Regions from separate parts of the Homo sapiens genome. Here regions 1, 2 and 3 are each linked to region 4. Evidence: fine-mapped expression QTL. A gene starts in region 4. Each other region holds a variant in brackets. All regions are shown on one strand. Distances are between the middles of the regions.

Region 1 (8,110 bases), 130 kb after region 4:
AATTTTGACAGACACAAGGCTCACTGGATTCAGAACAGCAGCTCTCAGAGCTGGACCTGTTCCCTTTTCTGAACTTCAGTTTTATTCTTATATTAAATTCTTCAGCAATACCTTTACCTTGACAAGAACGAATCATTAGAACATGTCTCCTCATGGCTGACCTCATGAGAGGAGATTTGAGGGCTTTGTGCTTGAGGCCCCAGGTCCCCCATGCTGTGCCCAACTCCTCCCCATTCCCTGGCTCCCCTTCCATGGGGGGCGGTTCAGACTCCTGTCCTCTGTCCTGGGGTGGCTCTGAGTGGCCTTCACTCCATCCTGCAAATCAGCAAGAGGGGTCTCCCTGCAGGCGCCCCACTGCTCACCACTTACCTGAGAGCAGGAGCCAGGTTCTGCCCTCTGCCCGCTCCCGTCTGCCCGCTCCCCTCTCCCCTCTCCCCTCTGCCCGCTCCCCTCTCCCCTCTCCCCTCTGCCCTCTGCCCTCTCCCCTCTGCCCTCTGCCCTCTGCCCTCTCCCCTCTGCCCTCTCCCCTCTGCCCTCTGCCCTCTGCTCTCTGCCCTCTCCCCTCTGCCCTCTGCGCTCTCCCTTCTGTCCTCTCCCCTCTGCCTTCTCCCTCTCCCCTCTCCCCTGTCGCCTCTGCCCTGCTCCCTTCTCTGTCCTGGGCTTCTGCCCCCCTCACCGCTCTCTGCATCCACTCCAGCTTTTCCCCCCTTCACTTTCTCCAAACAGTGATTTTTTGAAACTAATATCAACAAGATCAGGACAACTGCAATCACTTTACCCGACTTGTCAGTTTCCTATTTAGAAAATTCAGACTATGGAGTGGAATTGGCTCCTCATGGGACCCATGGTAAGTTTTTAATTTTTGAATTCACAATCAGATGATTTGGTTAAATTTTACATCCTTGTGTAGCTCCCCTACTCAACATTAACTGTGTATTCCTAGGAGTTTTCAGTAAAATTCAAAATATGTTTAAAAAGAAAAAATTCTAGACCAACTATCACCTACAACTGAATAAAACAAAGTATTTTATTATAGCCAAAGGGTTTTTCTGACTTGTCCAGCACACCAAGGTAATCAGTCAAATTTCTTAATATTTTTCTGTGAATGTCCCTGTCTGAGATGGAGGAAATAGCTGATCATAAGTCTAAATAGCAAGACAACTTCTGGGAGGAAAGCAAAATTAACTTTATGTATATGAAACTGATTTTCAGGAGAAAATGCAGACTCAAAGAAATGTTATTTTCATATTATAAAAACTATACAAAATAGAAAAAAAGATGAAATCACCTTGAACAATACAAACATCATAATTCAACCGTCGCGAATATTTCAGTGTAATTTTTAAATTTCTTCTCTACACTTACATATCTGTATAGTCATCTCTATAACATACAGGCGACTACCTATCTGCTTTTCATGTTTATAACTCGATTATAAGCATAACTCCCTATTGTCACATAGGTGTTAAGCCTTCATTGAGAGGAAGAAGAATCCAAGTTTTTATAATTTTATGGTCGGCTTCCTCATGTATTCTTTGCTTTTCTGTGCTTGACTCCTCCTCACACACTGGCTGCAGCTGGAGGAGACAGAAGCTACTACGAGGATTTCAGGTTCTTTGAGTTTCAGGCGGACTCAGCTTCCAGGGGCGAATACTCCACCTCTTGCAGCTCCTTCTTCCCTGCTGCGGGCGAGAGGGGGTCCTGGGATGGTCTGTGGCTGGCCGTGGAGGCCGGGGTCTGGGCTGGCCGTGGAGGCCGGGATCTGGTCTCTGAAATCTGGTGGCTCCTGGCAGGTGGGCACCATTGGGGGCTGAGCACACTGTGCTCCTGCCACTGCCTCTGGCTGGGGACCCTCTGGAGCAAAGCCTCGACACCCCAGACGGCCTCCTCAGCCACTGCACGTGGTCTCCACTGGAACCCCCTGACTTACTTAGGAATGCTGACTCAGAGGCGGCTGCAGGTCTGAGCCGGGGCTGTGGCTTGGCCGACAGGCACCCACAAGGCACCCGCAGCCGCTCCGAGGCCCTGCTCTGAATGCTCTGCCTTTAGATTCCGTCCTTAGCATCAGGAAAGAAAAGACCCGGCTTGTGAGCTCCTTGTCCCACCTTCTTTCACTCCAGACGTCCATCTCCATCTTTCTCCATCAGGGACTTTCTGGGCAGGACACTTCCTTGATCACATCCCCAGTTTTCCACCCAGGACTTTGTGAAAACTCCTCCAGGCCTGGCTCTTGGTATGTCAAGAGAAGTTTAAGGGATTTAGACAGTACATACATATATGTACACGTGCGTATGTGTGTGTGTGTGTTTAAGGGATTTAGACAGTACATACGTATATGTACACGTGCGTATGTGTGTGTAAGGGATTTAGACAGTACATACGTATATGTACACGTGCGTATGTGTGTGTAAGGGATTTAGACAGTACATACGTATATGTACACGTGCGTATGTGTGTGTGCGTGTTTAGGGGATTTAGACAGTACATACGTATATGTACACGTGCGTATGTGTGTGTGCGTGTTTAAGGGATTTACACAGTACATACGTGTATGTACACGTGCATATGTGTGTGCGCGTGTTTAAGGGATTTAGACAGTACATACGTATATGTACACGTGCATATGTGTGTGCGCGTTTAAGGGATTTAGACAGTACATACGTATATGTACACATGCGTATGTGTGTGTGCGTGTTTAGGGGATTTACACAGTACATACATATATGTACACGTGCGTATGTGTGTGTGCATGTTTAAGGGATTTAGACAGTACATACGTATATGTACACGTGCGTATGTGTGTGCGCGTTTAGGGGATTTAGACAGTACATACGTATATGTACACGTGCGTATGTGTGTGCGCGCGTTTAAGGGATTTAGACAGTACATACGTATATGTACACATGCGTATGTGTGTGTGCGTGTTTAGGGGATTTACACAGTACATACGTATATGTACACGTGTGTATGTGTGTGTGCGTGTTTAAGGGATTTAGACAGTACATACGTATATGTACACATGTGCGTATGTGTGTGCGCGTTTAGGGGATTTAGACAGTACATACGTATATGTACACGTGCGTATGTGTGTGTGCGTGTTTAAGGGATTTAGACAGTACATACGCATATGTACACATGTGTGTACGTGTGTGTGCGTGTTTAAGGGATTTAGACAGTACATACGTATATGTACACATGTGCGTGTGTGTGTGCGTGTTTAAGGGATTTAGACAGTACATACGTATATGTACACATGTGCGTATGTGTGTGTGCGTGTTTAAGGGATTTAGACAGTACATACGTATATGTACACATGCATATGTGTGTGTAAGGGATTTAGACAGTACATACGTATATGTACACGTGTGTGTATGTGTGTGTG[CGT/C]GTTTAAGGGATTTAGACTACATACGTATATGTACACATGTGCATATGTGTGTGTGCGTGTTTAAGGGATTTAGACAATACATACGTATATGTGCACGTGCATATGTGTGTGCGTGTTTAAGGGATTTAGTACATACATATATGTACATGTACGTGTGTGTGTGTAAGGGCTTTAGACAGTACATATGTATATGTACACGTGTGTGTGTTTAAGGGATTTAGACAGTACATACGTATATGTACACATGTGCGTATGTGTGTGTGCGTGTTTAAGGATTTAGACAGTACATACGTATATGTACACATGTGCGTATGTGTGTGTGCGTGTTTAAGGGATTTAGACAGTACATACGTATATGTACACATGCGTATGTGTGTGTAAGGGATTTAAACAGTACATACGTATATGTACACATGTGTGTATGTGTGTGCGTGTTTAAGGGATTTAGACAGTACATATGTATATGCACACATGCGTATGTGTGTGTGCGTGTTTAAGGGATTTAGACAGTATATACGTATATGTACACATGTGCGTATGTGTGTGTGCGTGTTTAAGGGATTTAGACAGTACATACGTATATGTACACATGTGTGTATGTGTGTGTGCATGTTTAAGGGATTTAGACAGTACATACGTATATGTACACGTGTGTGTGCATGTTTAAGGGATTTAGACAGTACATACCTATATGTACACGTGCGTGTGTGTGTGCATGTTTAAGGGATTTAGACAGTACATATGTATATGTACATGTGCTTGTGTGTGTGTGTTTAAGGGATTTAGACAGTACGTATGTATATGTACACGTGTGTGTATGTGTGTGTGGGTGTTCAAGGGATTTAGATAGTACATATGTATGTGTATATGTACATGCGTGTGTATGTGTGTGTGTGAGTTCATACAAGTACTTATTTATCCACTTACTTTTCTCCTTACAGCCATGATTTTACACGTGTTTTGGTGGGAACTCAGTTATCTCGTTCCGTCAGTCAGGGCGGCAGTGATGCCTCTTCCTTTAATTTGCATTTCCACCCTGACAATCACATCTCCCTGAGCAAATGGCTATTTCTGTATGACTAGGGGAAAGATCACATATGAAGGAAAATAAAAGAGAAGAGCACACAATTTAAATAGACCTTTAAGTGATCTCTTTTGCATGGATATTCACTTTGTTTATCATCTTTCCTGGACATGTGTTGGGAATGGGATTAACTGGAGGGTGCAGTACAGAGCAGCATTCCAGAGCCGGCTCTGTGAGGGTTTCAGGCGAGAGCCGGTGCCAGGGCTGCCAGGACTTCCGTGCTTGTCGTCGTGGGGCAGGGATGGATGCCTGATTTCAGACGGAAGAACGCCACTCTCATCAGCAGTGGAACTGAGTCGAGTCCTCAGTGGCCCTGTGGAGTCTTGCAGGTGAATGCTCCAGTAAGCGACGGCCACCCCCGAGGTGTTCCTGAGATGTAGAGATAATTCCAGCTGTGCTGTGTGCTGTCTAACATTTTGGGTTCTCAGTGATGTGGGTGGAGAGATGGTTCCAGCTGCACGGTGTGCCGTCTAACATCCTGGGCTTGTTCCTGGTGTTCTCAGTGATGTGGGTGGAGAGATGGTTCCAGCTGCACTGTGTGCCGTCTAACATTCTGGGCTTGTTCCTGGCGTTCTCGGTGATGTGGATGGAGAGATGGTTCCAGCTGCACTGTGTACCGTCTAACATTCTGGGCTTGTTCCTGGTGTTCTCAGTGATATGGGTGGAGAGATGGTTCCAGCTGCACTGTGTGCCGTCTAACATTCTGGGCTTGTTCCTGGTGTTCTCGGTGATGTGGGTGGAGAGATGGTTCCAGCTGCGCTGTGTGCCGTCTAACATTCTGGGCTTGTTCCTGGTGTTCTCGGTGATGTGGGTGGAGAGATGGTTCCAGCTGCACTGTGTGCCGTCTAACATCCTGGGTTCTCGGTGATGTGGGTGGAGAGATGGTTCCAGCTGCGCTGTATGCTGTCTAACATTCTGGGCTTGTTCCTGGTGTTCTCGATGATGTGCGGCAGAGGGAAGGCCCTCACACTTTGGGGTACTTTTTCTTTAAATTAGAGATGATGATACACAGCTGGGAGGTGGGTGGGAAAGTGGGCGTGGTAGGAGATGAGTCAGGTGAGAGCATTTTGAGACACCCAGGAGCTGTAGAAACCTGAGTTGTTGCTATAGAAGTCCTAGATATCTTCCTGGATAATTCTCTTTCACATAATTGACATAACGCTTCTCTGTCACACCCAGGAAGTCCTGGTATTGTATAGATAAAATCAAAAAGTTATTTCCATTTTACCCAGACCCAGTTTTGAAAGGCCACAGGATGCCAGGATATTCCTTTTTTGTTCCTTTCCTGCTGTGATTACGGATGGGAGGATGGGATTTCAGCTTCACTGTGCTGATGGGCCGTGAAAAAAGAAACATCAGTGACCATCCCCAGAAACAGCGAAGGGGGGTGGGAATCAGTCAGTTAAGAAATCGAGCAAGTGCTCGCCCTGTCTCCACCTCGGTCTCCCACCTGCAGGCGAGAGGCCTATCCGTCCCACCTCTAAGCGTCTGTGACTCTAGGCCAGCAGGGAAGCTCTTGGCATCATGCGTGGCTCCGCTGTCCCTGCCTCCCAGAGCAGGGAGGACGAGGAGCACAGAACAGGGGTCCATCAGGGCTGTGGCTGGTGGAGGTGGGAGGCCCTGGGCTTGGACTCCACAGCCAACCAGGAGCCTGGAGCTCCACACAGCCCGAGTTAGAACCAGGACTGGCAAGAGTCAGACAATCTCCCCAGCATGTCCAGCTTTCAGTTCTGAAGAAACCAACCAACAAAGATACTTGAGCCTTTGCAGTTCCCACGTGCCGGAAAAACTGGTACATGCTTGAGAAGCGTGGATGTACAGAAGAGAAAGCCTCTCGGGTGGGGTCACCGCAAAGAGGAAAGGGCGCACGCAGGTCACTGCAAAGAGGAAAGGGCGCACGCAGGCGCAATGCACAGATCCACGGGCAGCATCTAGACGACGTGCGCTGCTCACAAGGCGAACCTTCGCTCAATGCTCCGGAAGCTGGTTTCCGAATTCACGCCAGCTCACAACTGACCTTCATGCTACACTTTGGGTCCCGTGAGGGCGGCTGCTTCCCCCTGCTCACTCTTGGGCAGCTGGAGCCTAACATAGAACCTGGCATGTGGTAAGCGTGTGCTCAAACTTCACGGCGGGGTGAGGGTGCAGGCATGTGCTTACCACACACTCAAACCTCACGGCAGGCTGAGGATGCAGGCATGTGCTTACCACACACTCAAACCTCACAGGCAGGCTGAGGGTGCAGGCAGGTGCTTACCACACACTCAAACCTCAGGGCGGGCTGAGGATGCAGGCACGTGCTTACCAGGCATTCAAACTTCACGACTGGCTGAGGATGCAGGCAGGTGCTTACTACACACTCAAACTTCACGGTGGGCTGAGGGTGCAGGCACGTGCTTACCAGGTATTCAAACTTCATGGTGGGCTGAGGGTGCAGGCATGTGCTTACCGCACACTCAAACTTCATGGGGGGCTGAGGGTGCAGGCATGTGCGTACCAGGTATTCAAACTTCATGGTGGGCTGAGGGTGCAGGCATGTGCTTACCACGCATTGAAACTTCAGGGCGGGCTGAGGATGCAGGCATGTGCTTACCAGGCACTCAAACTTCACGGCAGGCTGAGGGTGCAGGCATGTGCTTACCAGGCACTCAAACTTCACGGCAGGCTGAGGGTGCAGGCATGTGCTTACCACGCACTCAAACTTCACGGCGGGCTGAGGGTGCAGGCACGAGCTTACCACGCATTGAAACTTCAGGGCGGGCTGAGGATGCAGGCATGTGCTTACCACACACTCAAACTTCACGACAGGCTGAGGGTGCAGGCATGTGCTTACCACGCACTCAAACTTCACGGCGGGCTGAGGGTGCAGGCACGAGCTTACCACACACTCAAACTTCACGGCGGGCTGAGGGTGCAGGCACGAGCTTACCACACACTCAAACTTCACGACAGGCTGAGGGTGCAGGCATGTGCTTACTAGGCAGTCAAACTTCACGGCAGGCTGAAGGTGCCTGCTCCCAAGCGATCTCATGCAGCCTGCACTCAAACTCCACATTCCAAAAGTACCTACTCATCTGCCTAGATGCCTGCAGGGCTGGCTCTGATCTGCTTGTCCTGAAATGTGTTAACTGCCTTTTCATACCTTTTTTCATTGCCATGCCAACTGTGAAAGACTCCAGCCCCTTTCAGATGAGGCCCCCAGCTCGGAGATCCACCCTCCAGGAGGTGCTGGGCAGACGCGTGGGGCGGCCTCCACCTCCGGTTTCCTCCCTGTTGCCTCCCGCAGCCTCTCATTCAGAAAGAAACGTGTTTCCGGAAGCTGTGCCGTTGCCATGGAGCCTGGATGGCTTTGTCAGTTTCCTTATTTGCAGCCTCATCTCATCTCCAGACCCACTGTGCTCCTGGACTCGCTGGCAGTCCCAGCTCTCGCCTTCACTGTGGTCTGTGGACCCCTGCACTGAGCCTCGTGTCCTGTGAAGTCAGGCTCTGAGGGTCTCCACGGCCTCCTCTCACCAGAGACCCCCACATCTGCCGCGAATATAACCTAACACTCGAAACCTTTCTCAGTGGCTTGTGCCACCTTTTGAACTTACAATGTTGCTTTGTAGTTCCTTTTATCTGTTGTACGCTTCAGTTAACAG
Region 2 (8,110 bases), 130 kb before region 4:
CTTGTTGAGGAAGATAAATGGGTGTCAACTGGATTGAGGCATTGTTAGACTAGGGACCCCTGAGATGAGGACAGCAAGCAGAAATTGTGCCTCACACTGAGAAGTGCAAAGCGGCAGCAGGGGTTTTTAGTTGATTATGACAGCCATGATGCTTTGTCCTCATTGTAATTATCACAGTAAAGCGTTGCAGTTTCTTTAGTCTTTTGAGGAAGTGAGGGAGTTGAAACTTTCAATATTCATAATGTTGTAAAATCTCAAGTTTCCTATTCATGTATTTTATGTCTAAAATACACAAAACATAAAATACATGAATAGGAAAATCCTACTGTTACTTATTAGCTGTTTGGGGCAAACTTGATGGTGCCGAACAATGGAGGAGTCCATTTCAATCTTGGTTAGCAAGATTTCCCACAGAAAGGGGAGCAGTAACCCTACAGAGAAAAAGCGAGCCTTGAGGAGAGTGGATGGAACGTGCTTGGGATAGAGAGACACAGCTGGGGGCAGCACCTTCATTCACACAGCCAGCCATGGTGCCAGCCAGCACAGTGTGGAAGTAAAGAAATCTACAAGGAGACTCACAACCCAATGAACAGACTTTACTCAAGAGAGATGCCAGGGAGAGACTTTTAGCTCATTAGAAAACCAAATCTGCCAGGCGCGGTGGCTCGTGCCTGTAATCCCAGCACTTTGGGAGGCCAAGGCGAGGGGATCACCTGAAATCAGGAGTTCGAGACCAGCCTGACCAACATGGAGAAACCTCATCTCTACTAAAACTACAAAATTAGCTGGGCATGGTGGCACATGTCTGTAATCCCAGCTACTCAGGAGGCTGAGGCAGGTGAATCACACGAACCCAGGAGTCAGAGGTTGCAGTGAGCCAAGATCGCCCCATTGCACTCCAGCCTGGGCAACAAGAGTGAAACTCCATCTCATTCCTGAGCCAATCAGAGTAATAATTCCATGCCTTCTCATTTTGGTGGAAATCTAAAGTGGTTTGGATTTGATATAAAAACAGAAGATTTAACATTCCTATTCTTAACTCTTTCTACTTCCAAGTCCTTGAAATTATAGAAAAGATGTAATAAAATGATAATAATTAATGGCTGGGCATGATGACTCACATCTGTAACCCCAGGACTTTAGGAGGCTAAGGCAGGAGGATCACTTGAGCCCAGGACTTTGAGACCAGCTTGGGCAATACAGTGAGACCTTGTTTCTCCAAAAAGTTTTAAAAATTATCCTGGCATGGTGGCGTATGCCTGTAGTCCCAACCGCACAGGAGGCTTAGGTGGGAGGATCCACTGAACTCAGGAGGTGGTGGATGCAGTGAGCTGAGATCACTCAGTGCACTCCAGCCTGGGCAACAGGGTGAGACACTGTCACAAAAAAGGAAAAAAAAAAAAGACAAGAAAGAATGTAATCAGCAAAAAATTAGAAGAATTTCTGAAAGATAAAAAGCACACAGCATTTGATTTTAAAAGAAATATAGTGTAAGGAAAGAACAACTAAACAAAATGGATGTATCTTGTGATCCAAGGATTCCTACTCTTAGATATACCTACAAGAAAAGCACATATGCTGATGGCTCTATTATTAGAAACAGCAAAAATAGAAACCATTCAAATGTCCATTAACAGTGGAATGGAAAAATTATTATAAATTTGCACAGTAGAATACCGTACAAATGTTACTGGGAGGGGTGCAGGGTCTGTGGCTCTTGCCTTCTTGGAAGAAAGAATTCAGCCAAGAGATGCACAGCAAGGGTTAAGCAGCAGAGTTTCTTGAGGGAAGATAGAGGACAGTTCAAGAAGGGAGTGGGCTGGCCTGACTGGAAAGCAGCGGCAGCAGCGAGGTTTATTTAAAGGGAGAGCACACACTGAATGACAAGGCAGAGCAGGTTGCTGGAGAGAGGGAGTGAGCCAGCAGCAGCCAGTGCTGGGGACTCTCTTTATGAGGATCTTACATGATTATTCATGAAGGGATGTGAGGGGCTGTCACTTGCAATCATGTATTAGGTGGTTCCACATGCTCTATGGCTGTACATGCTAGTACACACATGAAATGTCTCATTAGCATTTAAAACCTCCACCTAGGGGTGTGTTTTTTATAATTGTAATGGGCAAAGTCTACTGCAGGGTGAGTTACTGGAGGAGTGAGCATGCTTGCCAATGGGAAAAGTCTCTACCATGGTTGTCTCCAGCTAGAGCCTGAGGAGTCCCCCTTAGGGCTGGAGGAACCCAACCACAACATAAAAGTAGCCAGTGTAAACTACTACCACACACAACAACGTGGCTGAATCTCACAAAAGTAAGATTGAGGGAAACCAGTCAGGAAAGAAAGGACAATTATGATTCCATTTATACACAGTGCAAAAACTTGGCAGCACTAATATATTCTAACCGGAATGGTATTGTCTTCAGGAAACTGGAAGTGTGGGAGGTAACTGTGAAGAGGAAAAATAGGGTTTCTGGGTACTGGGAAATATTCTGTTTCTTGATCTTGGTTGTACTTAAAGATGTTTCACTTAGTGATATTTCACTGAGCTGTACACTCAGCGTAATATGATTTGTGCGTGTCATATGTGTATATTATACTTCAATAAAAATAGCATTTAAAAAACACAACTCTGAACAGCACAACTGATTGGATATAGAGAGTGATTAGTAACCTGAAAGATTTTGGTTGAGAGGAAAGATTATCCAGAAAGCAGTGCAAACAGATGGAAAGGATGAGAAAAAAGTGTAAAGCCAGTACGTAAAGATGCAGTAATTCTACATAAAAAAAAGATTTCTAGGAAACGTGGGAAAGTGAATTTAATCTAATATTGCTGAGGCATGTTAAAGGGTGTGATTAATCGTATGTGCTAAATCACTCATTGGAAGTACTAGTAAAGAATTAGTTGGAAAATAATTGCAAAGTAAGCTCAATGGAATTATTGGTGCAAACTGAATATCTTCTGACTGTTTACTAAAAGAAGGGTGATGTATAACAACCGTAGGTTTTATTCATATAAATGAGCTGAAAATTCACAGTAGCTTTGTAACTACTTGCTGGATAACTGCATACATTCAGGGATTTTTTTCCCCAATAATAAAAACTTTTACTCATAATCACCAAAACTTAGATGGAACCAAGATGTCCTTCAGTAGATTAATGGATAAATATACTGTGGTACATCCAGACAATGGAATATTGTTCATCAGTAAAAAGGAAGGAGCTATCGAGCTATGGAGGAAACTTACATGCTACTACATGAAAGAAGCCAATCTGAAAAGGCTACATGTTGTAGAATTCCAACTCTGTGACACTCTGGAAAATGCAAAACTATGGAGACTGTGAAAATATCAGTGGTTTCTAGAAATTGGGTGAAGGCGGGGATGAATAGGCCGAGTGCAGAGGATTTTTAGGGCAGTGAAACTATTCCATATGATGCTATGATGGTGGAAACGTGTCATCGTACATGTGTCAAAACACATAGAATACACAGTAACAAGAATGAGCACTAATATAAACTATGGACTTTAGGTGATTAATGAGGTGGCAATGCAGGCTCATCAATTGTAAGAAAATGCACCACTCTAGTGGGT[G/T]ATGTTGATAATGGGGGTGGGAGTGTTACACACAGGTGGGGCTAAGAGTATATGGGACATCTCTGTACCTTCTGCTCAATTTTGCTGTGAACCTAAAACTGCTCTAAGAAATAAAGCCTACTGATATGGTTTGAATCTCTGTCCCCACCCAAAACTCACATTGAATTGTAATCCCCAGTGTGGGAGGTAGGGCCTGGTGGAAGGTGATCGGATCATGGGGACGGCGTTCTCATGAATGGTTTAGTACATCCCCTTGGTACTGTACAGTGAGTGAGTTCTCATGAGATCTGGTTATTTAAAAGTGTTTAGCACCCTCCTCCCTTCCTCCTGCTCTGCCATGTAGATGTGCCTGCTTCCTCTTCACCTTCTGCCATGACTAGAAGCTTCTTGAGTCCTCCCCAGATGCCACTGTGCTTCCTGTACAGCCTGCAGAACCGTGAGCCAATTAAATCTCTTCTTTACAGACTGGGCGTGGTGGCTCACACCTGTAATCCCAGCACTTTGGGAGGCTGAGGCAGGCGAATCACTTGAGGCCAGGAGTTCAAGACCAGCCTGGACATCATGGCAAAACCCCGTCTCTACTAAAAACACTAAAATTAACCAGGTGTAGTGGCGCACGCCTTTAGCTATTTGAGTGGCTGAGGCATGAGAATCTCTTGAACCTGGGAAGTGAAGGCTGCAGTGAGCTATGATGCTGAGATCACACCACTGAACTCCAGCCTGGGCAACACAGCTAGACTGTTTCAAAAAAAAGAAAAAAAATCTTCTTTATAAATTACCCAGTTTCAGGTATTTCTTTATAGCAATGTGAGCATGGACTAATAGTCTACTAAAAAGAAAAAAGGTTATTCTACACAAAGTGGTATGTTCCTCTGGGTAGAGATTTCCCTTTTTTTCCTCCCAAAAATTTGGTTATAAGGATGGGATCCCTCAACTAAGCCCTCCACTGGGCACATTTCTTGGAGTATTTGTAGCCATCTTTAATCAAATAAGGGACTATTTGCTAAAAAGTGTTTCTTCAACTACTTTGGTTCAGTGGAATTGGGTTCCCAGGGAAAATCCCAAACTCTCACTAGAAGTTTTGAGTTACCATTGAGTAAAATTGGTAATGTGGCTGAAAGGCCCTGTGTGGTTTGCTGTTGGCTTTAATGGTAAAATGTTCTGAAAACTCTGGAATGCTGTCAGCGGGTCCCTCTCCTGGAAGGCGTGCTTCACTCTGCCATGCCGGGCTCCAGGAGGATAACTGCTTGCTGCTCCAGCAACTCAGGCTGCTTGCTGTGCCTGGAATGCTCAGCATGAGGGGCCACCGAGGGCAGTTCCTGAAGCCTCTCCACTGAAGGTGGACTGGGAGAAGCCACAGTGCCACGCTTCTTAGCCACATGAGGCCCGTGAGTTTTCACCAGCTGTTCACCTTTCCTAAGTCCAAGGCATGTCTCAGGGGGTCCGGGCTCCTGATCCTCTCCACTTCTGTGGCAGCTTTGTTGCAGAGAATTCAAGAGAGCAAATAAGGGAAAATGTAGTTGGGTGGCAAGAATAATTTCTCACGTTTTGAGGGAAGTAGCCCAAGTTTGGGAAAATATGGAGAAAGATAAAGAAGACAAAAAAATAGCCCTTAAGATTTCCCAGTTAGAATTATTCACAAAGGGAATAAACCCTTATCTGGGGCCACCACCAGACAAGAAGGAACCCCGTAATGGAAAGTCAATATGTTACTGTTGTAAGAAATCAGGACAGTGGAGGAAAAATGAATGCTAAACGAGGGTCAAGAAGAGTTGAGAGATACAAGCTAACTCTAAAGCTTTACCGTCATCTCCAAGAGATTTTTGCCTAAGGAAATTGGACAAAAAGTAATTGGAAAATTGTGGAAAGTAACCTCAGAGCTGAGGGTGGGAGGCATTTATGTGTCTCTTTCTTTTCCCACTTTAAGCTTGTCCTGATCTTTCTTGTGAACACTGAAGGCACACACTCCACAATTTCTACAGACGGTTATCATTTTACGTCAACCTAGGAAAACATCCAACTTTTGGGTACCTCTAGACAACCTTCTCCCTGTTCTTTCTTCTCTGAGGTTTCTCAACAAGTAGATTCTCCATACTGTAGATGGAGTGTTTTCAGAGCTCCCAGGAGGCAAGGAGTTGGTAAATAAGCACTTTCTAAAATAAAAGAACTATCATTATCTATTTGTTCATCAAATAGATACTTAGGTTTTTCCCATATCTTGACTATTGTGAATAATGCTGCAATGAACTGAGACTGCCGACATTTTCACAAGGTCACTTTCTCTGACTATATGCCCAGAGGAGAGATTGCTAGGCCATAATGTAGTTCTTTTTAAAATTTCCTTAGGAGCCTCCATACTGTTTTGCATAATGGCTGTGGCAATCTACATTTCCACTAACAGAGTACAAGCATCCCCTTTTCTACATACCCTCACCAACACTTATTATCTCCTGACTTTTTGATAGTAGCCATGCTTACAGATGTGAGACATTTCACAGTGGCTTTAATTCACATTTTCCTGGTGACTGATAACATTGAGCACATTTTCATATACCTGTTGGCCACTTTTAACGTCTTCTTTGGAGAAGTGGCTATGTAGGTCCCTTGTCCATTTTTTTAATTCGGTTGTTTGTTTTTTTAATATGGAATTGTATGAGTTCTTTATAAATATTGGATTTTGTTTCCAAATCTGTAGGTTGCCATTTTATTTTGTTGATTGTGTTTTTTGCTGTTCAGCCTTTAAAAAGAAGGAGATCTTGCCATTTGCCACAACATGCATGAACCTGGAGGACACTATGCAAAGTGAAACAAGCCAGACAAAGAATGAAAAATATTCCATGATCTCACTTACATATTGAATCTTTTAAAAAAACAGGTAAACAAAGACAGCGAATGAAACAGGGTTACCAGGGGGACTGGAGAGGGTGGGGGATGGGAAGATATAGGTCAGAAGGTACAAAGTAGCAGGTGTGTGGGATAAACAAGTCCAGAGATCTCATGTACAACATGAGGACTAGTGTTAAAAAAAATTGTGCTGTATTTGGAATTCCTGATAAATGAGTTGATTTTAGTTGCTATTACCACAAAACAAAAACAAAAACAAAAATGGGTAACTATGTGAGATGATGGATGTGTTAATCTGCTTCACTATAATAACCATTTTACTGTATATATGTATATATATGTATCTTAAAGCATCATGTTTTACATCTTAAATATACACAATAAAATTTATTTTAAAAATTAAAATAAAATAAAAGCATCTCAAATTAGAAGGGCTCAAGGAACAAATAATATGGGTTAGTAAAAGAAATTGAATCCTGCTCTGGTTTGAATGTTTGTGTCCCCTTCAAAATGTGTGTTGAAGCTTCATTTCCGATGTCGAGGTTTTAAGAGGCGGGACCTTTAGGAGGTGATGAGGTGATAAGGCTCCTCCCTCACGATAGAATTAAGGCCCTTGTGAAAGAAGCTTCACACAGCATTCCACCTTTTTGCCCTTCTGGCCCTACCACCATGTGAGGATGAAGCACTCGTCCCCTCTGAGGACACAGCGCTTGTCATGGTGCCACCTTGGAAGCAGAGAGCAGTTTCACCAGGTTCTGACCTTGCCAAGCCTTGATCTCAGACTCCCAGTCTCCAGGACTGTGAGAAATAAATTCCTACTATTTATAAATTACCAAGGTTCAGGTATTTGGTTATAGCAGCACAAACAGATGGAGATCATCCCCTTTTCACAGCTTAAAACAAAACAAAAACATTATGGACATGTGTAAATCAACATCCTCTCATTCTAGCTCAAATACAAGGAATAAAAAACTCAGAGAGTTAGAAAAACAGAGCATAGTCAAGAGAGGCGCATTTTCCTTTTTATATTCCCAAATTACCTGGGAAAAAGAATGAAAACTGGGCAAGAAATTGCCCGTAGATTTGTACAAGCTCTGCGAGAAATACGTGAGGTTGAGGCTGCTCTGATTCCTATTGTTCCATATGGGGCTGCATTCTGCGTCTTTTCTGTACTTTTCACTGAGGTACCAGGCTCTTCTTTGAGTGCCCCTGGAATCTTCTTTCTTCCGCATTTGTGGTGACGGATCCTCAGATTTGCCTGCTATACTTTCTAGACATTCACAAGAGAACTAAGAGAACTTTTCCCCACCTTTAATTCATACTAATTCAACATGTGAGCGATTTATTAATAGCTGTTAACACTGTATGTGCTTACAAACAAGATACTTTCAATTTAATAAAAATTTTGCTTCTCTAAATAAATTGCAGTATTATCAAAGTGAAGTCAGGAATTTGGGACATTTGTTTTAGGCTGGCAGATGAAAACCGGTTCTATCCTGAAGTCAGCCTATCTTAAGCACACACTATCTAACACATATACACAAACTCTGCCAGTTTGGGGGTTGTTTGGGGGTTCAGACTACGGGTCCTTTCCTATTCTGAAAAAGCTAAGCCTCTTGCTATGATGTCACATGAGGAGTTCACCAGAACTTTACTGTGGTCTAAATAAGCTGAAGAAG
Region 3 (8,110 bases), 46 kb before region 4:
TTTCTAACTTAGCTTAAAAAAAATGTCCAGGTTACCTTTTCATGGAAATTGGTATGCACCCTGTGGGCATCAAGCTCGCGTGGAAACGTTCGTGTTACCCAGGGAAGAATTAGGAGCACGCACAAAGCGGGGACGCTCGGCCTCCTTCCCCCCGAGGCCCCTGGGAATCCCAGCATGTGGGTGCTTTACAGACGAGGCTGGGGTTGAGGCAGCGTGAATCTCCCCGTTTGCGCAGCGGGAGCCGAACGGGCCTCGGACTGACCGCTCCAGATCCCGTGGTCCGCCCACGACGCCACGCCAAAAGTAAGCGGGAAACTGACTCAAGGCCGGGATTCACATTTCAGACTTTTCGGAAGTGTGGACCGCCCAACACACTCTCTGTAGCAGTGGATTTAAAACTGCCCCATTTCCAGGCAGCGTATCTGACGTTTGCTGTGCAAAGTCAGTGGCTCTTCGGAGAGCGCATAGTGCAGCTGCTCGGCCTGCGCTGGGCTGCCCCTGCCAACAGGCACCGGGCTGCCCCTGCCAACAGGCACCGGGCTGCCCCTGCCAACAGGCACCGGGCTGCCCCTGCCAACAGGCACCGGGCTGCCCCTGCCAACAGGCACCGGGCTGCCCCTGCCAACAGACACCGGGCTGCTTCTGCCAACAGGCACCGGGCTGCTCGGCCTGCACTGAGCTGCCCCTGCGAACAGGCACCGGGCTGCTCCTGCTAACAACAGCTTTCCTCTGTTGGAGATGTCAGAAAATCCCTGTGGCCTCATTTTAACTTTCTTGGAAGCAGTTAGGAAATACCACATTTAAACAAAATTAAGACATCTGTGGAAGGAAGTGGTTTGGTGATATTAGAAACATTTGGGGAGTCGTTGTTAAAATTTAATCGGCATCTTTGTGAACGTCCGTGGCTCTGCCCCACTGCACTCCAGCCTGGGCCACAGAGCAAGACTCCATCTCAAAAAAAAAAAAAAAATGGGGTTTGAATTTTGTCAGATGCCTCTTCAGGATAGATGGGGATGATCTTATTTTTATTGTGAGACCATTTAAGAGGATGAGTGATCATAGATGTCCTAATACTGAACAAGCCTAGAGTTTACACCTGGTCTCTATCACGTCACTGTGTTGCTAGGATTTTTGTAACAATGTTTAGGAATGAGATTGGACTTTTGTTTTTTAAAAGATTTAATCTGAGATGTGTTTTGTTATTAGTAGTAGGCTCAGATCATTGAAGTATTTGGAAATTATTTTGCTATCCTCTGAAACAATTTTAATATTACGAAGCTGACTTTTTATATTTTTGAATTTAATTGAAAAGGATTAAGCAACATAGTCATTTCTATTTTATTTGATTAGGATTTTTTGTGTGTTGTGTGTGTATACACACAAACTCACTCTACACACACACACACACACACACACACATATATACCCTGAGTTACTAAGAGTTTGAAGTTTTCAAGCTAGTACGGATTTTCTTATTTGTAGTACAGAGCCAGGAAATGTTATCTATACTATTTCTTATCATGGCATAAAAGAAGTTTTCTTTGTGGCATTATGGTCAACTTTTGGGAGTGTTCTGTGGATACTTGATATAAATAGGCAGTCTAATTTCAGGGTACAGTCTCAAATCATTAGATACCTTTTATTTTTATATAGTATATATATTTATGTTTTTATATGCTTGATCTACAGTATGCTGAGGGGTGTGTTAATCTGTTTTTTTAATATTTCTTTGTTTGTCTAATATACTTTAGCTTGCTAAATATTAACAGGCCCACTGACAGCCACATGCATTATGTATTTGTTTTAGATTTATTAAATTTAACATCATAAGATGTGCCCTTGTCAACCTTGGCAGTCAAGCTCTTCCTTCAACCTCTGGCGCCTGGCAAATATTTATCTGCTTTTCATTATTATAATTTTGCCTTTTCAACAATTTTATGTAAGTGGATTTATGTCTTCAGTGTCTGACTTCCGACACGAAGCAAAATGCTCTGAAGATGCACCATGTTGTTGATGTATCAAGATCCATTCCTTATGCTGAGTAGTGTTCCACGGTATAGATGGAACATGATGCTTTTCATCCACTCAACAGATGATGGACATTTGGAGTGTTTCCAGTCTGGGGTCATTATGAATCAAGCTCTTATGAACATCATATAATACTTTATGTGGACATGTATTGTTATTTCTCCTGGACAAATACCCAGGAATGAAATCTCTGGGCTAGAAGTTAAACTGCCACACCAAAGTAACCATGCAATTTTGCATTTCCAGCCACACTGCATGGGAGTTTCCAGAGCTCCATATCCTCATTCACACTTGATAGCGTCAGTTGTTTTCATTTTAGCCATTTAGAGGTTGGTGGCAACATCTCACTCTCAGTTCCCGTTTGCTTTCCTTAATTGTTAAAGATAATTGGGCATCTTTTCCTGTCCTTACTTGGTATCCGTATATTTTCATTGGTGAAATCAATGAAATCTTTGGTCCATTTTTTGATTGTTATCATTTTAGTGATTTATAACAGTTCTCATCTACATTTAAAAATTGATATTTAATAGATGTACATGTTTTTGATATACATGTGATAATCTGATGCATTTGTATAATCAAATCAGGGTCACTGGGATATTCAACACCTTGAATATTTATCTTTCCTTTATACTAAGAACATTCAAATTATTCTCTTCTAGCTGTTTTGAAATGTATAATCCATTAATGTCAACTGTAGTCACCCTAATGATCTATAAGACACCTGGTCTTATTTTTTTCTAAGTGTGCATTTTTACCCATTAATCAACCTCTCATCTACTTCTTAGATTTATCTTTGCAGTTTTTGGCAGTTTTATAATGATGTGCCCATATGTGACTCTCCTTGTGTTTATTCTGCTTGTTCATAGTATTCTGCTTGTTCATGTGTTTATTCTGTTTGTTCATAGTAATTCTGAAATCTGTAGCTCAACGTCTTTTTAAAGTTTTGGAATATGCTCTGGCATTCTATCTTCATGTAGAGCATCTGCCTGATTTTTCTCTCCACTTTTTGACCAGAACCTTCGCTACTCATTTTCTGTACCTTCTTGCCTTATCCCAGTTTCTTTTGGTTTTTCTAGTATTTTCAGTCAACTCTCAGTCTGGATGTATGTTTCTGATCTGCTTTCAGGTCAATGATTCTTTTTTCTGCTGTGTCTAAATGATTGTTAAATCCATTTATTATCTTCTTAAGTTTATTTTACTTTTCAGTCTCATGTTTTTCATTTAGTTCCCTCTTATAGTGTCAAATTTCTGCTGAAGTTCTCCACCTTTTAATTCGTTGAACGTATAGAGCATAGTTTCTTTACAATAAGTCCATTGTAAATGAGTGAATTTATTGTATCTTCTATAAGTTTAAAACTTTAAATTTTGTAAGTTTAAATGCATGGAAGGAAATACCATATAGTGCTTAAGGACACAAACATACGTAGTAAAAATGTAAAGAAAATTATGGAATTAAAAACAGCAGACTCAGGGTGATGATTCCCTTTGAGACAGCAGTGATTGGAAAGGGCTTAGAAAGTAGGAAATAACTGTTTTGCTTCTCTCTGGGTGAAGATAACATGTGTCTTCATTCTCCTTCTCCATGTCTTAAGAAGGTATAATCAATAAAAAGGCAAATGCACGGGTGTGTGTATGACGTAAGGCAGTGAGGAGCAAATAGCAGGACAAACAGTGCAATGTGCACCTGCTCCTCTCAGGAGGGTTTGCTGGGTGAAGCCAGGGCTGAAGCAAGGAGTCTACGCGGGAGCTGGGGCTGAGCGGGCAGCTCGCTTCAGGGTGGGCATGGGGGAG[C/A]GCAAATATTGGGTCAGCGAGTGTCTGAAAGGCAACAGAATCTCTGGTGGATTTAATAGAGGGCATGAGATAGAAGAACGAAAGTTGGCTCTGAAGTCACCCTGAGGACCAAGGAAATCCAAGGATGGAATTTCCATTTACTGAAGAGGAACACTGTGGGAGGGGCAGGCTAAGTGAGGAGAAAGAAGAGCTTGGATTTGAGCCCGTGAAGGCTGAGGTGTTGTTCCTTGTCCAAACGGAGCTGTAAAGTGCATAGCTGGAGAGGGGAGTCTAGAGTTCAGGAAGGAGCTCAGGCAGCCCAGAACGGAGGTGGATTTCACCCTGCATATGAGACATAGGACTTCTGCCTACCTTACAAAAAAAATAAGAAAAACAAAATTGAAATATTAACTTAGTAAACATTTAAAAATTTTATTTAGAGACAAGTCTACCATGTCACCGTAAGTTTATGCTACTGCTGGAAATGAACAAATGTAGCCCCATAAGGAAGAAAAGTTGAGAGATGCCATATGTTTAAAGACATGGTAGTCAGACTTCTTTGTAATCACATTTCTATGATAAATGCATAGTATAATTTTTGAAGGTATAAAGACAATTTCTAAGGATTTATATTCTAGTTAATACCTACGACTCTAAACATTACTTAATACCTCATTTAAGCTGATTTCTTTTTCTCTAGTCACTTTGCAAATGGAAATGTAAGAATTGAAATTTGTGGCTCTACCCTCAAGATTCTCAAATTAAAACACAGCTACCATATACATGGCCAGATCAAATGCTTAGCGATGTTTGAAGTGTTCACAAGAGAACTATGAGCGTATAAACTGTATGATATTCTATGACACAGTAAGTGTGATAAAGTTAGTACAAAGTATTTAAAGATATGTCAGTCAGCTCTTTTTATATAGAAAAACAAAATCTTTTACATACGGAATGGAAATTTTGTAGAACAGAAGTTTTTTAAAATTTATATTAAACATTGCTTAACTAGTAAATCCTGTCAGTGTAGAAATAATTTTTTTGTAATTCTCAAAGAAGAAAATAGTATACGCTTTAATTCATGGTTACGTAGTTGGCTGGAAAAATGCCAGTTTGACCTCGAAGTTTTCCTTCCCACCAATCAAAATGTGAATCTGTTTTTGATATAACTGTGATTCTGTCTCCAGCTTGAAAATTCAAATCCCCAGGCTGCTGTCCTTCAAATGAATACAGCGCTGTCACTTCTATGGGTTGATTCAAATTGCCTGAAACAAGAAAAAAGTATTCACGTTTATGTTCTTTAAGGGAGAAATTGGGGGTATCTGCTGGTAAGATAAAAATTAACCACTTAGGGCTTGGCATGCTGATGTCTTGGAGGCTGGCAGAAACCACAACAGTCTGTGTAATTTTCATCACATTATTAAACTTATTTTTCTCTGCACATTCTATACCTAAGGATTTAGCACATGCTTCTGGTTACAATCGTCTAAATTTTGAATAATCTATGAGATAATACAACTTACATTTTTTCTATTTTAATATAGTCATTGCTGTGGTCTGAATGTCTGTGTCCCCCTGAGATTCAAGTGTTGAAATCCTCAACCCCAAGGTGATGGTGTTAGAAGTGGGGTCTCTGGGGGCTGATTAGGTCATTACGTTTCCCCCTCATGAATGGGATCAGTGTCTTACAGACAGAGCCTGAGGGGAGCTTCTTGCACCTTCCTCCTTGTGAGGACACAGCCAGATGGCACCATCTCTGAGGCAGAAACCGAGACCTTGCCAGACACTGAGTCTCCTGGAACCTTGATCTTGGAATCCAGCCTCCAGAAGCGTGAGAAATAAAATTCCATTGTCTATGAGCTGCCCAGACTATGGTGTTTTGTTACAGCAGCTGGAAGGGGCCAAGATAGTGTGACAGTTTCATGGATGGCAGATGCTGGAGAAAGGCAGATATGTGAGCTTATATCAAACCCTAGGAGATTCAACTTTAAAACCTGGCTCTTTACTCACTGGGCTTGAAGATTGCAGCCCAGTTATATTTTGCTGTTTCCTCAGCAGACATTTCTTCTCCCTGGGCTTTGTGGCTGTTTACATTTCTGTGCTTAATTGATCCATCCTCTCAATATCAGAGATAAGTTGGAATTAGCACAGGTAGGAGCATTTCTACATGTTTCACAAGTACTTCAATGCAATGTGTATATCCATGTATTGCAGAAGGAAGAAAATACTTTGAGAACTGAGCAGTTAACATGAATAAAGGACATTAAATATTATAAACCACATAACATCATAAAAATATAATTAAACAGTTTTTGAGCACTCAGCTACATGGAGTCTGATGCTTCTATGCTTCATATAATTCTGTGCATAAATTAGGCAACTAGATGTACAGACATACAGAAAACATCAATAACCAGACTCTAGAGCCAGGTCCTATTTGAACCCATAATACAATAATAATAATAATAATAATAATAAAGTGAATTTGGTCCACCCATAAGAAATAAAAATAGTCAACACTTTAAACTACTCTGACTAAAACACTGAATTTGTAGCTCTCACAAGATGGTGCTACCATTCTTTCTTTAAAGTATGTGCCATTTAGTTGAGTTCTAAAGAAATAATCCTAATAATAATTACACTAGAGATAATACTGGTATAACTACTTTTTTCTATAATAAAAAGAATTTCTGTATATTTTATTTTGTCCTATATTTACTTTTAGTTAACAATTTTAAGGAATAAGGATAAAAGAATGTCACCAAAATAAAATTTTGACATAGTCTAGAAACAACAGAAGTTAAGTTAAACGTTCTAAGTACACGATTAAATTCTACACGTTAATGAGCAGTCGCTGCCATGCACTGTGAAAGGAGCTGTGCTCTGCCCTGGGTGGGGTACCGGGCAGGCGCTCACGCCGTGCTTCCCTGTCATCAGATCAGGATGCAAGCTAATGCTAAAGAAAAATCCATCCTGGAAATCTCTTATTCATGATTATATTTAGGATATCCACATATAAAGCTGAATCTTAATTAACCAGAACAAATCAGTGAAGAACCTCCAGGAACTCTGTTCTCCTCCCTCTTGTCTCCCAGACACGTTAGATAATAGGAAGAAGTGAATTAAAAGAGTGCTTGTGAACATCAGGGAATGTTCTGGGAGCCACAGCCATCTTAGCTACCATGCATTTATACACTTGCAGTCTCATTTATAAAATCAAAAATGCATAATAAGGACGACAACAATGATAACAGCAATCGATGTGCATCTGGGAAGAGCAGCCACCGCGAACTGCTCAGGCACACACATGTGCTCCTCTTACACCGCCCACTGCAATGAGCCAGCTACTCCTATCCCACATCACAGAATTTGAAACTGAGCTTCAGAGATAACAAGTAATTTGTCCAAGGTCAGGAATGAAGCTTGTCTCCAGGTCATCCAAGACCCTCAACAACCTCATAAATATGAAATTGTGCTCAACAGACCAAACTGACATTTATCGGAGCATTTTACTTTTATGAGGCAAATGTTCAAGGGGGATTAATGTGGTGACCTGCCTCACTGGGTTTCCAGACTGTACAAATAACAGCATCTGATGCTATGGTTCTGGGTAATCCCTGATAACTGAATTGGTTCTAAGCAGTTTCAGGAATATATTTTATGAGGAATAATTAGAGAAATAAATATATTATGAACTAAGAAAGAGAAAGAAGGCGAGATCACACACCTGGTTTGGTCCCTGCCCTCACAATCAGGTGTTGGTCTAATTTTCTCTGAATTGCAGATTCCAAATGAAATGAGGATAAAGCAGAGTGAGAGAGGAGGGTAGAGGAGCAACGTGGGTGGTTTTCAGGTGCAGCTGAAGGGAAGGCCACCACTGAAGGTCTGAGGGGGCCGGGATCTCACATTTCTCCTTTACTGAGGCTAAGATGTGTGTTGACTGTTCCTTGTGCCCAATTCCTCACCCAATTGACCACAAATGCCTCTGCCTCCTGGGGAGGAGTACAAGAGAGTCAGGAGTTGAGCTGTTGTTGGAGAAACTCCATCCACATGAAAATCACAAGAGTGAGGCCAGCAGATCCAGGAGCCTATCTGCTTTCTCAGATAACAATCCACAAGCCAGTTAGTGCTGTGCCCTGTTAGTTTTTTTCTTTGAAAAACTCCAAATGACTTAAAGTTCCTCTTTAATGTAAATATTAGAGATAATTTTCACAAGGAGAAGTTTAATGCCCACAAAGAATTCACCAATAAAAGGTGAGTCAAGTAATGATTCCTTCCATGAAGAAAAACCTTCCTGGTTACCGGGAAG
Region 4 (8,110 bases):
ATTCATTCACAGCTTTGTGTTACAGAAAGATAAACTCCAAATTCATTGAAGATTTAGAGTGTCAAATATCAAATTATAAAAGAACCAGGAATTATAGAATTTTTTTTCAATTTCATAGTGGAAAAGACCCAAGTATGGCAACAAAATTTCTATATTTCTATATTTTTACATGATCAGCAATTATTTGTACAACGTACAAATACATTGTAAAATACAGGAAAAAGTACAGATATGAAAATATGAAGGATAAAAAGCATCTATAACATTAATACTCACCAATACTACTGTCTGCATTTTGATGTATGCTTCAATTGATTCCTATTGCGAAACATGTAGACTGATTCCACTTTTAGCTTTTATAGCCATTACTATCAGGTGGTAATTATCTTGGGAGAGATGCTCTAGATGCTCAATATGTTTTAATTACATTTATACATATATCTAGATGCTGGATACATTTGAATTAGTTCACTGGAGTGGAAACTTGTTCTTTCTGCTGCTGAATATTTCATCTACTTTATTTCAGAGGCAGCACAACTTGTCTGCTTACATTGATGCTGCAGCCATAGTATCTGGAGTGGATTGGGTGACCCGAGGCTGCTGTATCAGGACGACATTCCTTTTGGTGCCACAGCAGGGCTTTATAACCAAAGCTGGTCCAATACCAGCATCTGATGGGGGACTTGTATAGGAGCTGCCAGAATAACTTTTTCCAAGGCACTTCTGTTTCCACTTGCTGTGGGATTTTTGTCTCCACAAGGGGAGAGTCTGAGAGCAAAGCCTTCATAGGGGAACCTGGCAGAAGGTGGAGAGAGCACCTGGGCTCTGCAAAGCCAGACTGAAGTCACAAGCCGCTCTGGACTTCTTCGTCAAATGGACCAGCAACATCTTTTTCTGTTAAAGCAATTTAGACTAGATTTTCTGATACATGCAACTGAAGCACTGTAAATAATACATGAATCTTATCCCCTCAGAAGACTTTCTACTTTGAACTCTCTCAACCAAGCAGTATTAGAGCAAATAAGCAAATTCCTCAGTTGAGAGTTAATCTTGCAAACATCCTGCTGTAGGGAAAGGTCATGGCCTGATCTGTAAACACGGGAAGAGAGCCATTGGACTTGGGAATCAGATGCAGCCTCACACGGCTGCAGACCGCAAGACTCATCCTAGACACAGCTTATGTCACTGTGATCCAGCTGTTGACAAGGCTGGTCACAGTGAGGACATCTTCAGTGTGTCAGCTGAACTACAGAAAATGTTACAGATTCTAATCAACTTCTGATAAAATCATGCGTGGTCATAGTTACATGCAGTGAATTTCTCTGTCAGAACAAAAAGAATATGCAAATAAAAATTTAGACATAAGCCTCAAATCCCATCCTCAGCATCAAATGATGGCTCACCCATTTTTCCTCTGCTGTACCATAAGGCATATAGAGCATGACCTGATCAGAGTGCTGATGTCCCATTCTATCATACTGATGAAGACACAGGTCATTACTAATGAAGCCTCTTAAACCTCACATCATGGTTAGCATCTGCACTCTCATAAACGTCTTAAGTCCCTTGAATCAGGCAAAATCTCTATAAATATTTAAGTTTTTTCTAAAAAAAGAGTGGCTGCCAAACCTCAAGCTAAGAAACTTTCAAATAAAGTTTTCTTTAAAACAAAAGTTAAAATGTTTTAAATTTTCATAGTAACACATTTTTTTTTTAAATTAGAAGGTCTTATAAAATACCGGAAAGACAATTTTTACTTTGGAAACCTCAAAAGCATAAATCAGCTTAAGATCTGGAAATAATTTTAGGTATTGATCGCAGTTCTATAAACTCAATGCTAGAGTCACTGGGGACAAACAGGGACATGAGAATCCTACTCGGAGTAAATTGCCACCTGAGGTGACAAAGCTGACTACGGTTTCCAATCTAGTTGTACACGGAGGGTCAGGAATGAAAGCAAGAAGACCCAAGGGCCCCTCTCCACCACTTTCCTTACCAGAGTTCAGATTCCCAAACTTTTGCTTCCCTTATATTATTTTCTTCAATGGACTCTAATTATGAAAGGAATACTTACAGGAAAGCAAGCTTACTAAATTTGGTTTTCCAAGTTCTTACTGATTACATATTAATCAAATTATTAAACCTTATACTTTATGTGAAATGGAGGTTAACTCATTAAACTGATAAAATTCCATCTAAGATCAAAGGAACTTGAATGCTGCTAAAGGTATATTTAGAATAAACTAAAGAAATCTTAGCCAAAAGAAAGTGTATGTATCTAATCTTTAGAGAGGCTTTCAAATGTTGCTTTAAGCTACTTTTATTAACAAAACTGCATTTTGAACTCCACTGCTTGACAACTATGGCCTTTGTTTCTTAAGTCAATTCTTACCTTTCTGGGGCCTTGGTTTAACTACTTCCTTTGTTTTAAGGACACAAAGCTTGTCAGTTCTCAAAATAAAAACCTGTCTCTCTGGTCAGATCATTAACTCCCTAGTCAAACTTTCAGACTACCGTCTGAACATCAAGTGCTAGCCTGAGCTTGTTTCCAGTCCCCCAACCCCAGGCTGTGGCTGGGGAAGGAAGAGGACAGCGAAAGCTTTCTCTGCTCCCTCGGGAGACAGGAAAGCCCTTTATTTATTCCTGCCCTTCCTCTTCTCCAACTGAAGAGTGTGATCTTGGTACAGAGCAGTTCCACACATGCCACACTGGTCTGATCTTTTAGAGTAAAAAATGGGATCTTCTCAGAGAAAATTTTTTTAAAAACTTCATGTGCTTAGGTCTCAGAGCAGAGAATTTTGTCTTATCATGACGCCACTCACTGGCAAACAAGCTGGCGTGCACAGGGACTTGTGAGGCTCTCAGCAGAGTCAGGGTAGCAGTTATTTCCCTTTGACTGCCTCAACTTCCTATGTTTGTGTTGACATGCCAGATCCTTATTTCTGCGGAATGAGAAATCTCTTGAGAATAAAGTTTTCCTAAACAGAACAAAAGTATCAAATCACTTTTGATGAGCAAACATTATTTTAAACTTTTTTTTAACTTACAAAAGATGAGGGGTAACATTTACTAGTTTTACAGAAATTTTCTTTAAACAGAACATTAGTGAACCAAATAACCAATTCTCCTCAAACATGATAGACAGGATGGAGGTTATCACTTTGATCATTTTAACCTCCAACATAGTAATTTGTAAACATCAGTCGCTGCACAAGTATTTTAATAACAGGCCAGCCCACGGGAGTAAACAGCACCTTAGCCTCGAGACCTGTTCTCTCAACTGTGTGTACAGATTTTCTAAGTCGTTATGAATTCAGATATTCCCTACATCTCAATAAAAACACCTAGGAGAACAAGAAATCAGGACATGCATCTCCTGTAAGCAGAAGAGAAACCGAGCACCTGCTCTCTTGCGGGGGGGCAGCTTCGTGTCACTTTCCAACTCAGCCTCCACAGGAGCATGGGCATATTGGTTCAAATGAAGTGTAAAGGACACATCTCTGTCCACAGTGTAAATCCTATTTCCTTAAGGTGGTCAACCGATTGAGACCAGTTCCACACTTCCTTAAAGAAGGAAAAACTCAGCAGCCAGCGCCAAGGCCCAGCGATCAGAGAGGACCCGTGCTCGCCGCGACCCCGCGCTCGCCCTGTGGCCCCGCGACCCCGGCGCCAGGTGTTGGGGGGACCGGCCCTTCCCTTCCGGGTGTGAGGGGCTGGCCCTTCTCTTCCAGGTTGGGGGGCTGGCAAACTCGAACCTCGCCGGCGCCCTAGCCAAGGCCTCCTCCCCGCGCCTGCCGCGGGTTCCACGCACATTCCAAGCGCGCGCATTCGACCCAAACTTCAGAGACGCTTCTGTGGAACGGAAGGATGGTCGCTGACACCTCGCCGTTCAAATATCAGGAAGTTAAAAATAACACGACCATCGTCATCATTCCAAACTTCGGAATAGCTTTTCTAAAAATGGAAAAGACGGTGGCTAAACTTCAATCAAAATCGCTGTGGTCAAGAAAGTCCTGGAAGCTGCTCTATCTTAACTTTGGGCGGTTTGCGGTTAACAGACGCGCGACCTAGAAACCCCAGAGGCATCGCCGGTTTTCCCGTCCTCCTCCTCCCACCACCGCCCAGCTCTTGAGAGGGGAGGGTGCTGCCGGACAGGTGGGTCCCCGGGTACTCACTGCTGCCCGCCCGGCCGCGGCGCCCCGTCCCGAGGCTGCCCAGGAAGAGGAAGGCGCGCTGCCCCGCCCCGCGGACAAGGAGGCCCCAGCGAGGGCGTACCTGCGGCAGGTGACGAAGGAGGCGGCGCAAAACACCCGCCGTGTACGTTTCGCGGGACAAAAACCACGCGCCCGCCGGGCCGCGCTCAGGCCTTCGCCCTCAGGGACTTCGGAACCGCCCCGTCCTCAAGATCGAAAAGCCCAGAGCCCCGCGGCGGCTCCAAGCACGGTGTTGGGGGTGGGGGTCTCAGGGAGCGCCCAGGCCCAAGGCCGCCCTGGTCCGGCGTGGACCCCGCGGGGCTCAAGGCAGGTTCCCCGCGTGACCCGCCCAGCCCCTCTATGCGAACTCGAACGACAGGCACCACAGCCCGCCACGTGCGCGAGACTCGCGCTGTGCCCCAACCCAGGTGGGCGGCCCGCGGAGCCGCGAGGCCTGAGCCCGCCCTGCAGGTGACCCGCGGCCCTTCCTCCTCCAGGTACCCCTCTCCTGCGGCCCCGTCCCCTATAGGTAACCTTTACCTCCCGCGGCTCCTTCCCCTCCAAGCGACCCGCAGCCCCGCCCCCTCCAGGTGACTCCCCCCCGCCAACCCCCGCCACCACACACACACACCCCCTCGCCTTCCGCGGCCCTACTCCCTCCAGGTGACCCCACCCCCGCAGCTCCTCCTCCTCCGGACAACCTGCAGCCCCGCCCCTGCAGGTGAACGGCGGCCCAGTCCCTGCAGGTGACCCGCGGACCCTCCCCGCCCGTCCTACTACCGTCATAGGACCGCCTCCGCAGGCGCACTGGAGCCGATTGCGCAGGCGTGGCTCTCACACGCGCTGCCCTGTTGGCGTTGGTGCGGGACTGCGCAGGCGCGCGGGGCAAGAGGGTGGCAGTGCGCCTGCGCCGCGTCGGCGTGCGGAACGCCGCGGTGTCTCGGCGCCTCTGCGCGCGGGAAGATGGCGGAACAGGCTACCAAGTCCGTGCTGTTTGTGTGTCTGGGTAAGAGGGCGCCGACTTACTCATGTTCTGACGTCCTCTGGAGAGTTGGATCGGGCTTGTGCGCTGTAGGTTGTGCCGCCGGCCTAGGAACCATGAGGGGGAGGAGGCCAGGGACTGGGAGGCCTAGGGTGTTCTAGGAGTGTGCCGCAGCGCCCCTGTTCCCCATCCGCCCCGTGCACCCGCCCAGCCTGCCCGCTAAACCTGGGTCCCCTCGCGCCTGCCATATATCCGGGGCTCTTGGCATCTGCAGCCACAGCCCCTACAAGCCAAGGTACTTTCTTTGCGACTACTAGAATCCCTCTCGTTCCCCTCCAATGGGCCCAGGTAGGCCTGGAGGTTGTCGGACTGATGTGGTCTCTTAGGGGCCTCCTGAGTCCTATGACAACATTGTTTTGTTTGCTAGTTTCCTTAGCCCATGCTTAGATAGGGATCTGAGTTAAAGGGAGATGAAGTTTTACGGTTTCGGGTTTCTTGATTGTAAAAGCCAAGCAAAGGAGACCTGGAGGTCCCTATATAACTTTGGCCCATGAAAAATGAAAGTGTATTTTATTAATGGCTTTTCAGGAACTTTCCAGCTTAAATTATTTTCACTCCTAGAATTTCAACACTTAGCTTGCCTTACTTCAAACATAATTTATTTTCCGTTTGGTCTTCAGGGATCTTCCTTTGGTGTAGCACTACAAGGTTATATTCCTCGGTGCCTCCACCCTGAGAGGAAGGCCTAAATTGTCAGTAGTCCGGTTACTTAAAACCTTCTGTGAGTTTGCATTTCCTGCAGTTTCTGTTTATTTTTACAGACTCCTCACTTTATCTCCTGTACCTTTTCCTGCTCACACCCTCGGGACACTGCCTTCCAGAACCTTTCGTTGTTCGGTAGCACTTCACATGCTTACTGAGCCTTCATCGCTGGGTGCCCATTATGCATTTTGCCTGGAAAGCCTTTTTATTTTATAAAGTCAAACCTAAATATTTCCTCCTTTGCTTTCCCAGATCATGAGTTGCTTCCTTATCGACATCTTTTATTACACAAATTTTACTATAATTTGTGTAATATAGTAAAAGATGTAATACAGAAAAGGTGTGATTCCTTATCGACATCTTTTATTACACAAATTTTACTATAATTATTTGATAGTCTGTTGAAATCCCAGCTGAGTTTAATTTTGTCGATGGCAATAACTGTGGCTTATTTTTCATTTTGTTTTCAGCTTTAGGACAATATATGATAAACGCTGACTAGGTTTTGTAGAAGTTAACTTCTGTGAAAGACGAATTAGAAGGCTTACCTTGTTTCACATTGGTAGTGGGCATCATTTGATTTTTAAGACTCATTGAAGGCTGAATGATGAAATCAATAAGTTTATTAAACAGTAGTTTGGTTAAGGATGGTTACTAAATAATATTCCATTCCCTTGTATAGTTTTGGTTGGTATTGTCGATTATGCTGGCATAATGCATCATGGTTGCTGTTAATGGGGAAGTGTATCCTTGCATATACAGTAGTCCCACTTTAGCTGTAGGGGATACATTCCAAGACTCCCCAGTGGATCCCGAAACTGTGGGTAGTACCAAACCCAATTGCTGTCAATTGGAACATGTGTCTGCTCGTTTCTTACACCCACAAATGTAATACCGTTGCCACCTTAACTAAGCATTTAAAACTGTGGTCGCAACTTTTGCAGTTTGAGGCAAGACAGCAGACGATCAGGAATTTCTTTTTCCTTGTTTACATTTTCATGGATAGAAGATTTGTTCGTACTGTAGATCTTAGTAACCTCGGTATAAGTTTTTTTTTTCTTTCCATAAGAAGTCAAAAACTTTCACCTTTTTACTTAAGGGTAGTGCTTATGGCTTCTCTTTGCCGTATCTGAATTGCTAGCTTCACTACTCTTATGATTTCGGGCCATTATTAGTAAACTAAGGGTGACTCGAACTCAGGCACTGTGATAGCATCACAATGGATCTGATAAGCTAGAGGGCAATAGGTGGATAGACAGCATGGATATGCTGGACAAAGACGTGTTTCACTTCTGGGGCAGGACGGAATGGGATGGCATGAGAATTTATCCTGCTACTCAGAACAGTGCACAATTTAAAACTTAGGAATTATTTGTGGAATTCTTCATTTAATATTTTCCAACTGAAGCTGACCATGGGGTAACCATGGAAAGCAAAACCTTGGAAAAGAGGGGACTATTGTATTTCAATACAATTCAGTGATTTTTTGTTGTTGTTGAGCATCTACTATATGGCATGCATTCCTCTAAGTGGTGTGGTGAACACAACAGACAAAAATCCCAGCCTCTCTGGAGCTCACGTTCTCTCAGTCACCAGCAAGTATTAATTGATGTGCTCAATCGGTTGATGTGAAGATTAAGAAAAATAGAGCAGAAAAGGGGAATGGGAGTGGAGTGCAGTTTTGAGTGGGATGGTCAGGGAAGGCCCCACCTGATAGATGACTTTTGAGTAAAGACTTGAAGGAGGTGAGGAAGCAAGCCTAGGATATTTTGGAGAAGCATCCTGAACCCAGAGGAAAGCAGGTAAAAGTTTTGAAGGGAGAATACTGGCCATGGTCATGAACCGCAGGGAAGCTGCAGTGGCTGGGCCTAGTGGCCAGATAGTTTTTCTCAGTCAGGATTCCTCATCTATACCTGAAAATTTAGCAGATAATTTGAGCGCCTGTTTTCTCAGTGCTTCCATTGTAGATGTATAGGGAGAAGTTAATTCCTTATATACACTGGTCCTTTAGGGCAGGAGTCTGCAAACTCTTTGTTTAAAGAACCAGATTATAATTATTTTAGATTGGCTTCACATGACATACAGAAAGGGTGTAGCACAAAGTAGCCATCCATATGATGAACCTGGCTGTGTTCTAGTGGATCTTCATTTGTGGACATCAGAATTGGATGGA

What was found. PIP is the estimated chance that this variant, and not a neighbour inherited with it, causes the effect.
Region 1: its variant is fine-mapped to the expression of SH3YL1 in tibial artery (GTEx, PIP 0.95).
Region 2: its variant is fine-mapped to the expression of SH3YL1 in tibial nerve (GTEx, PIP 0.96).
Region 3: its variant is fine-mapped to the expression of SH3YL1 in whole blood (TOPMed, PIP 0.99).

The regions. Positions count from the first base shown.
Region 1 is chr2:386,365-394,474 of GRCh38, forward strand. LOC105373351 (a long non-coding RNA gene) reads left to right here. Exons shown (of 3, transcript XR_922703.3): 3 at 727-913. Among named protein-coding and RNA genes, the nearest start is that of LINC01865, 74 kb to the left of the region's middle. RefSeq lists an enhancer at 7,275-7,974. The variant CGT/C (reference allele first, on the strand shown) is at 3,383.
Region 2 is chr2:131,999-140,108 of GRCh38, forward strand. No RefSeq gene overlaps it. Among named protein-coding and RNA genes, the nearest start is that of FAM110C, 90 kb to the left of the region's middle. The variant G/T (reference allele first, on the strand shown) is at 3,588.
Region 3 is chr2:213,936-222,045 of GRCh38, forward strand. SH3YL1 (SH3 and SYLF domain containing 1) reads right to left here. Exons shown (of 10, transcript NM_015677.4): 10 at 4,209-5,066. The coding sequence ends at 4,876. Among named protein-coding and RNA genes, the nearest start is that of SH3YL1, 46 kb to the right of the region's middle. The variant C/A (reference allele first, on the strand shown) is at 3,823.
Region 4 is chr2:259,809-267,918 of GRCh38, forward strand. It overlaps SH3YL1 (SH3 and SYLF domain containing 1), which reads right to left and starts at 4,224. Exons shown (of 10, transcript NM_015677.4): 1 at 4,176-4,224. The coding sequence starts at 4,176. It overlaps ACP1 (acid phosphatase 1), which reads left to right and starts at 5,139. Exons shown (of 6, transcript NM_004300.4): 1 at 5,139-5,199. The coding sequence starts at 5,157. RefSeq lists silencers at 4,120-4,699, 4,770-4,849 and an enhancer at 5,200-5,249.